Linked DNA regions of Homo sapiens. The protein of the gene in region 2 interacts with the protein of the main gene of each other region in a pairwise test. Each region holds a gene or a part of one and is shown on either strand. Other genes may lie near its edges.

Region 1 (2,818 bases), on a different chromosome or scaffold from region 2:
GACATTCTGAAAGGCCTTTTTGAACTCTTGGCTGGAGCATGGGTATATGATGGGGTTGATGCAGCTGTTTAGATATCCGAGCCAAAATACTATTTTAAAAACTGTTTCAGAGGGCTTGAAATCAGGGAAGAAAGACCCTGGAAGAAAACACACAGATTTATACATATTATTTGAAAGCCAGCAAGCCAATTGGCTAGGAAAACAATCAAACAGACATCTTTCTGTATTTTTAAACGGTTAAAATGATCCCAAACACATATGAGTTTCTCACATTTGACTGACTAGCTCCTATGACTGTCACCCTTTTGCAATATCTTCAAAGACCATTCCTACTTGGTCCGCGTGTGTCATTAATTACAGGAGCAGGCCCAGTGGGTAGGGTTGCACTGGCTCTCAGTGACCAACAGCTGCTGTGAAGTTTTACCAAATGAAAATGTGAAACTCAGACTGAGTCCACATATGTAAATTGTTTTGCCTAAATTGAAAAGTAAGTTGGAATCCATGCAAGTAATCCATATTAAAATTCGGTTATCTGAACATGCCCTTTATTCTCTGATGCAGTGTTATGCAACAGACACAGCCTCAGTGTTTATGAATTCCTCCCCTCCCAAATGTTAGAATTATGGATTTTGATGAGAATCTCAACTTTACACAATATTGGCCTTGCCAAAGTTGGGCCAGTGATTCTCAATCACTTTTCCTAGATGATGTCTTTTGATGTCACCGTTAGCTCCCTTTGTCAATATCCCTCGATGTCTCCCAAATGTGTGTCTTTGCTTCACATTCGGAGTCCTCCACAGCCTCTGGTCTAACCAGCTTTCTAATATGACTAGTTGCTATTTTTTCTCTAGCCAGACTCACTACACTTTTTCTCCAGGTCATTGATCATTTTTTTTGTCCTCTCAAGTTGGGCCACTGTGTCCTTGATGCCCTTTTCCACCTTCTCTACCTACCCAAACCCTACCCGTTGATGTGCACGGCAGGAACCAGGCCTCAGGACCCGTCACATCCTGCGCAGAGACTGCCACAGGGCATTTCGCAGCAGAAGAACAAAACTGTGAAGTCTTAAAATGGAACAACCTTAAGGATTATCTCCTCCAATTACTCAATTTACAAATTTAAAAAATGCTTATTTAGCCTTTTCCCAGCTGCCGCCAAGATGCTCTGCCCTTCTGAGCTGAGGCTGCGTTGGGGTCAGGCCCTCACTGCATCCAGCACTAGCACTACTCCGGGCAGCCCAGCCTTGCACTTGTCCACACCACGGACTCCATCTCAGAGCTCGCCTGCACTGACTCAGCCCTCATTCTGTATAACGCTGAGGGGATCATCACATAGGATAAGGTCAATGTCGTTTCTAAAGCAGCTGGGGTAAATGATGACGGCTTTTGGCCTGGCTTGTCTGCCAAGGCCCTGGCCATCGTCAACTTCGGGAGCCTCCTCTGCAGTGGAGGGGCGGGGTGGGAAGACCTGCTCAGCAGCTGGTGGTGTACCTGCGGGAGGTCCTGCCCTTCTGTCACTGTGGCCTAGGCCGAGAAGAAGAAGGTGGAAGCAAAGAAAGAAGAATCTGGAGTCTGATGATAATATGGGCTTTTTTTTTTTTTTTTTGAGTAAACCTATTTTATAACACGTTCAATAAAAAGCTGAACTCTTAAAAATGCTTATTAAAGAGATTGTCACAAACCTCATAGCTACAATACTGATAAGAGTGATGGATAAAGGGTATGGGACTCCCAATCCAATGTTCTTTATTCTCTGATTCTCAGACTTCCAAGGGCTTTTGCTAAAGGAGCTTTATGAATTATGAAATCCCAAACGTCCCTCTTCACTCCTTTCAGAGAAATTGCAAAATAACATCTTGACTTTCCTTCCACCTCCTTTCTTTTCTTTCTTGGCTCCCAAGCTCCTTTTCCTTCTCCGCGGGCTTTTAGTCACAGCTTCGTGTACAGTTGGTAGAATGGCTTTGGGAAACTCCTATGATGCCTTTGGGCCTCCAGTTTTCTTATCTGAAAAAGGAGTATGTTGAATGGATGATTCCTAATGGCCCTGAACAATTTTTTTGTTGCTGTTGTTTCAAACCTAAGGTCTTGATTTTATGTCTTTCTTTTCCTCTCTGCTCTGTGGACCTATCAGAGCCGTGACAAATTGCTGGTGCTATTAAAATCCACTCTGGCAAACAGTGCTCTGAAATTAAGTCAAAAAGCTCATCAATATAAACAAAGAGTAAACTTAAATACTGAAGAACCCAAAGAAGACACAATAGTGTGGTTGTTGATGGGAGCATTTATTACCTCTGAAGCACACTCCCTGCTAAGTTCCATGTGTCTCAAATTCACACACACACACACACACACACAATGGGTGTTTATTTGGAAAACATGTAAAGTGAGAAAGTTTTATTCTTTAGCTCTAAAGCTTTTCATGTTGTCCTATAATTATAATAAAGTTTACAGTCTTTGAATGCCTGATTTGAAACAGGCAAGGCACTGTGCTGAACACTTTCCATATGATTTAATCATCGTTAGTAACATGAAGAGTTATGTGACTCTTCCCTATTTTACAAATGAAGAAACTGTGGCTTAATGAGTTTGAGTAGCTCAACCGAGGTCACTCACATAGTTACTGGTAGGTTTGAAATTAGGCAGTGTGATTGATTTCAGGGCCCATGCTCCTTTGTGGAATCTCCAAATATACTGCAATAATACATCTCTTAGGAGGATAGCTGATGGGGAGTGATAAAGTGTGCAGCTGGGGGAAGCTGAATTGGAAAAATGCTTTTTCGAACCTCATCTGTGATGGAAAAAATGGCTAATGCCAACAT
Region 2 (3,833 bases):
GAGGGAGATGGAAAGGGAGATATTCTGACCAGAAGAATTCAGCAATTATCAAAGGAGGAAATAGGCACAAAGAATGGAAAAAAGAATTATTCCTGGGCTGGTGCTTTGATTTAATTGTTATAAAAGGTCTATGGGGAAGTGGGGAGTTGGACAATTAGAATGCTTCCTAAGTTATCTTCCTCATGCATATAATCATTATTTTCTCCAACTATGGTTTCATGACATTAGGCATACTTACATTGAAATGTAAATACAAAATAAAAACTAAATACAGTTAATTATCACCGTGATTATTTTCTTTTATTAGCATTACCTAGAATTAGTTGTGAATGCACATCCACCTATAGAAGCCCCAGGTAAATTTAAAAAAGAAAACCCACTAAACCATTATAATTTTATAGTAGAGTTCCATGTAACTATTATATAATCTTTCTATATATCAAACTTTTTTTTCCATTGTGACTAAATAATGTAGCAATCCCTATAAGATATGTTGTTCCTATATAGAACACCTTGTTAAAAAAAAATAGGGGAATGTTTCAAGTTTGAATGATGCAGTTCTGGAAAAAACAACAGGAAAAAATCAAAATACGTATAGAAAATTAGGAAACTTACCCTTATTGCCTCATGACAAACTAAAGATACCATTCAATCATGTTTGAATATCTTCTCTCTGATCAATAGTGTTTGTCCAAGGTGTATGAGGAGACAAGAGACTCCACCCTCTAAGAGTTCATACTCTCCTTAGAGGGAGAATGAAACCTAATTGCTAACATCAATATATGTACAAATCAAAGTCACAGAAAAGTGACAGAGACTGGGAAGCCACAGTCTGAGGTGGGACTTGAGTGTCAAAACCTTGGGTGAGAATTTGGAAGTGCAGAAGAAAAAAAAGGCAGGACATCTCAAGCGGGGGGATATCCTGAAATGAATGCCCCAGTGGGTAAACAGGATAGAATCCTATTGAGCAATATGAGAAAATAAATAAGTCTGATCAGAAAGCAGCTAGACAATAGACAGCCTCGAAAGCCATGCTAAAAATTTTGGATCCCCATGTGAAAATAAACGCATAGTCAAATCACACTCAAAGAAGGCAAGTGGGTCAGTAAGGACAAGTGACTGATGGTTGTGGGCAGTAGGAGGTGATGGAAGGCCCAGGTAATGGTGAAAATGAGTCATTTAGTACCACTGGTGAAGAAGTGATGTGGGACTACACCAAGACATCAGGAGGTGAATGGAAAGACTCAGGCAAGGGAAGAAGGTCTTCATGAAGGACATAGTGATCAATTAGGAATAGATTAGATATAAAGGGTAAAAAAGTGAATTCCACAACACCAAAATCTGTCTTCGAAGACTGAGGCAAATGGGGATGTCAGATCTGAGTTAGGAAGTTGAGCTGGGAACTCTAAGCTCTTGAGAGTATAGAAGAAATCACAATTAGAAATACAGCTTTTTGAATCATCTATATATAAATAAAAATCCAGTCTATGGGCATGAATAACTACACCAAAGGAGTGAGAATAGAGAAGAGGAGAGGTGCTGGGACAAAAGATGTTAATAAAAATGCCAGGAAGGAAGAAGAGGCACAACCAAAGATCAGATGGGGAGTTACCATTACAGATGAGAAAGGAGAAGGAACTCTCAAGGAGCAGGGAAGAAGCATGGAGCAAAGGAGGAGATTACTGAGGACTACAGAAAGACTACTTAAAGGTAATTTCAGTGGGATCAAGGTTCAGCATTCCCAGAACATGAGGCAGGTGGTGAGCTATAGTTCCAAAACTTGTTCTAGGCAAGAAGCTTTAGTTTTAACATCAAATTCCCCAGACTGGATTGTCATTTTGACTTCCAAAGGTTACTTGGGACTCTACCAAGTTATGAGCTGTAAAATGCTACTACCTATAGGGCTATGCTTCAGGGGCAGAATGAGAACTAAACAGTAGAAATATATGTGTAATAGATTTGCAAACTACAATAAAGCTGTATGACTCTAACACTTTACTAGGGGAAACCAAGTATTATCTCTAATATAAGATTAGTATCAGAGATGGTTAACTATAACATTTTCCCACCAATATTCCTAGTAAACTTCAGCCCTGCCCTGGCAAGACGCTCCCTATTTTGGACATTGAGGATCACAGGCATGTGGGGGTTTTTTGTTTGTTTTAATTAAATTCATTCTCAGATCAATACCATGGTTTCCTGCTATAACACACCCAGTTTACATAAAGCCCAGATATGACACTGAAACACTATTCTTTCCTTCTTGAGCTTATTTTGCCTCCATTGTTTTTCCCTTCCTTCTCCCCATCTTGTCCTTATCCCCTGCTTCTAAACTACTTCCCCTTCCAGTTTCTCTCTTACTTTATCTCCATTAAGATACATTCTCACAAATGTCTACAAAGTATTTTCAAAACCAACAGTCAGTGATTAGCATGAATATTACTTAAAACAGTTTTACTCTTGGCCTTTATCCATACATTTCACCGTTCTTCCCTCCTTTTGAATAGACAGGCAAACCTGTTTGACTAGTTTTCCCCTAAGAGCTACTCCCCAGATTGGCTTGGTGAGAACAACTCAATAGGGACAGCAGCACAAATGCAAAATCTATGTAAAACACAAAGGCCTTCTTCATAAAGAGAACCCAGAGGAAGGGCCTGCTGTGGAGCCCCTAGACTAACTGCCTAGTCTTAGGCCTAAGACTAACTGCCTAGTCTTAGAACAGCTCTCTCAAAGCAGGAAGACACCACCACTGAATCACTCATTCCGTTGCTAGTAAAAAATTTTTATTTAAGTAAAATTGAATTCTTCCTGTTGATGCCTCTCCTCTGAATAATGAATATTATGAGGATGAGGGAGAATCAGATTAAGACTTAAGTGTAGAAGTTTAAAAAATTCCAACAGATGAGACTATATTCAAGATGTGTTACAGAAGTGTGTCCAAGTTTTTTGTTGTTGTTGTTGTTGTGTGTGTATCTGCTTAATTAAACCCATTAAAAATTCTGAATTTGCAAAACAGGTATTAATAAAATCAGAATAGGATTTTTTCTATGGTAAATTGTATGTTGATATTGCTTTAAATTTCAAAGTCCCTGAGTATATTTAATATATAATGTGCTTTAATGTCACTAACCACAATTTTTTTCTGTAAACTATTTCTAACATACAGAAAAATATAAAGATTAACATAACAAACATCTGTATGCCCATCACTTAATATTTAAGAAGTGTTAAATGTTTGCCCTATTTTCTTATTCTATAAATATGACTCAACTTATAAAAGCTGAGTTTATATACAGCTTTTCAAGAACCTATTACAGAACATATAGCATATTTGCACACTTGATTCTACTTTGTAAATTCATGTGCACATTATTTAAACTTGATGTTTCACTTGGAAGAAAATTAGCCCCACAGTTTTTACTCATTAAAGCAAGTTATAGCTTAATGTAATAACTAAAAAGTCATGATTTGGTGTCTTGAAATATTTTGAGTATTAAATTTCTTCAAAACAATTAAAAAGTACAAAATGATTTCACAAATATTTTGTTATATAATATTCCCAAATCAAGCACATATTTACCAAATCAGATACGAATGTAAATTTCTTTAATGAACTGGATTCCTTGCAGATGCATTTCTGTTATTTATATCAAGTCAATGGAAATAAATTATATCTTCAAAATAAAATCAATATAGTGATTATTCCAAATTAACAATTCAGATAAATAGTACAATGCTACAAGGAAACAGTATCTCTGAAATGTTCCTACTATACATCTTTCCATCTAATCTAAATGTTTTAATATTTACATAAATGTCCATCCAGAGAATAC

The links.
Region 1: the proteins of UGT8 (region 2) and ADRA1A interact in a two-hybrid assay, tested with the Homo sapiens proteins (one large-scale study listed by BioGRID and IntAct).

The regions. Positions count from the first base shown.
Region 1 is NC_000008.11:26,770,530-26,773,347, forward strand, and holds part of ADRA1A (alpha-1A adrenergic receptor), read right to left. Parts: intron 138-2,818; coding exon 1-137. UniProt on the Homo sapiens protein: This alpha-adrenergic receptor mediates its action by association with G proteins that activate a phosphatidylinositol-calcium second messenger system. Its effect is mediated by G(q) and G(11) proteins.
Region 2 is NC_000004.12:114,605,220-114,609,052, reverse strand, and holds part of UGT8 (2-hydroxyacylsphingosine 1-beta-galactosyltransferase precursor), read right to left. Parts: intron 1-3,833. UniProt on the Homo sapiens protein: Catalyzes the transfer of galactose to ceramide, a key enzymatic step in the biosynthesis of galactocerebrosides, which are abundant sphingolipids of the myelin membrane of the central nervous system and peripheral nervous system.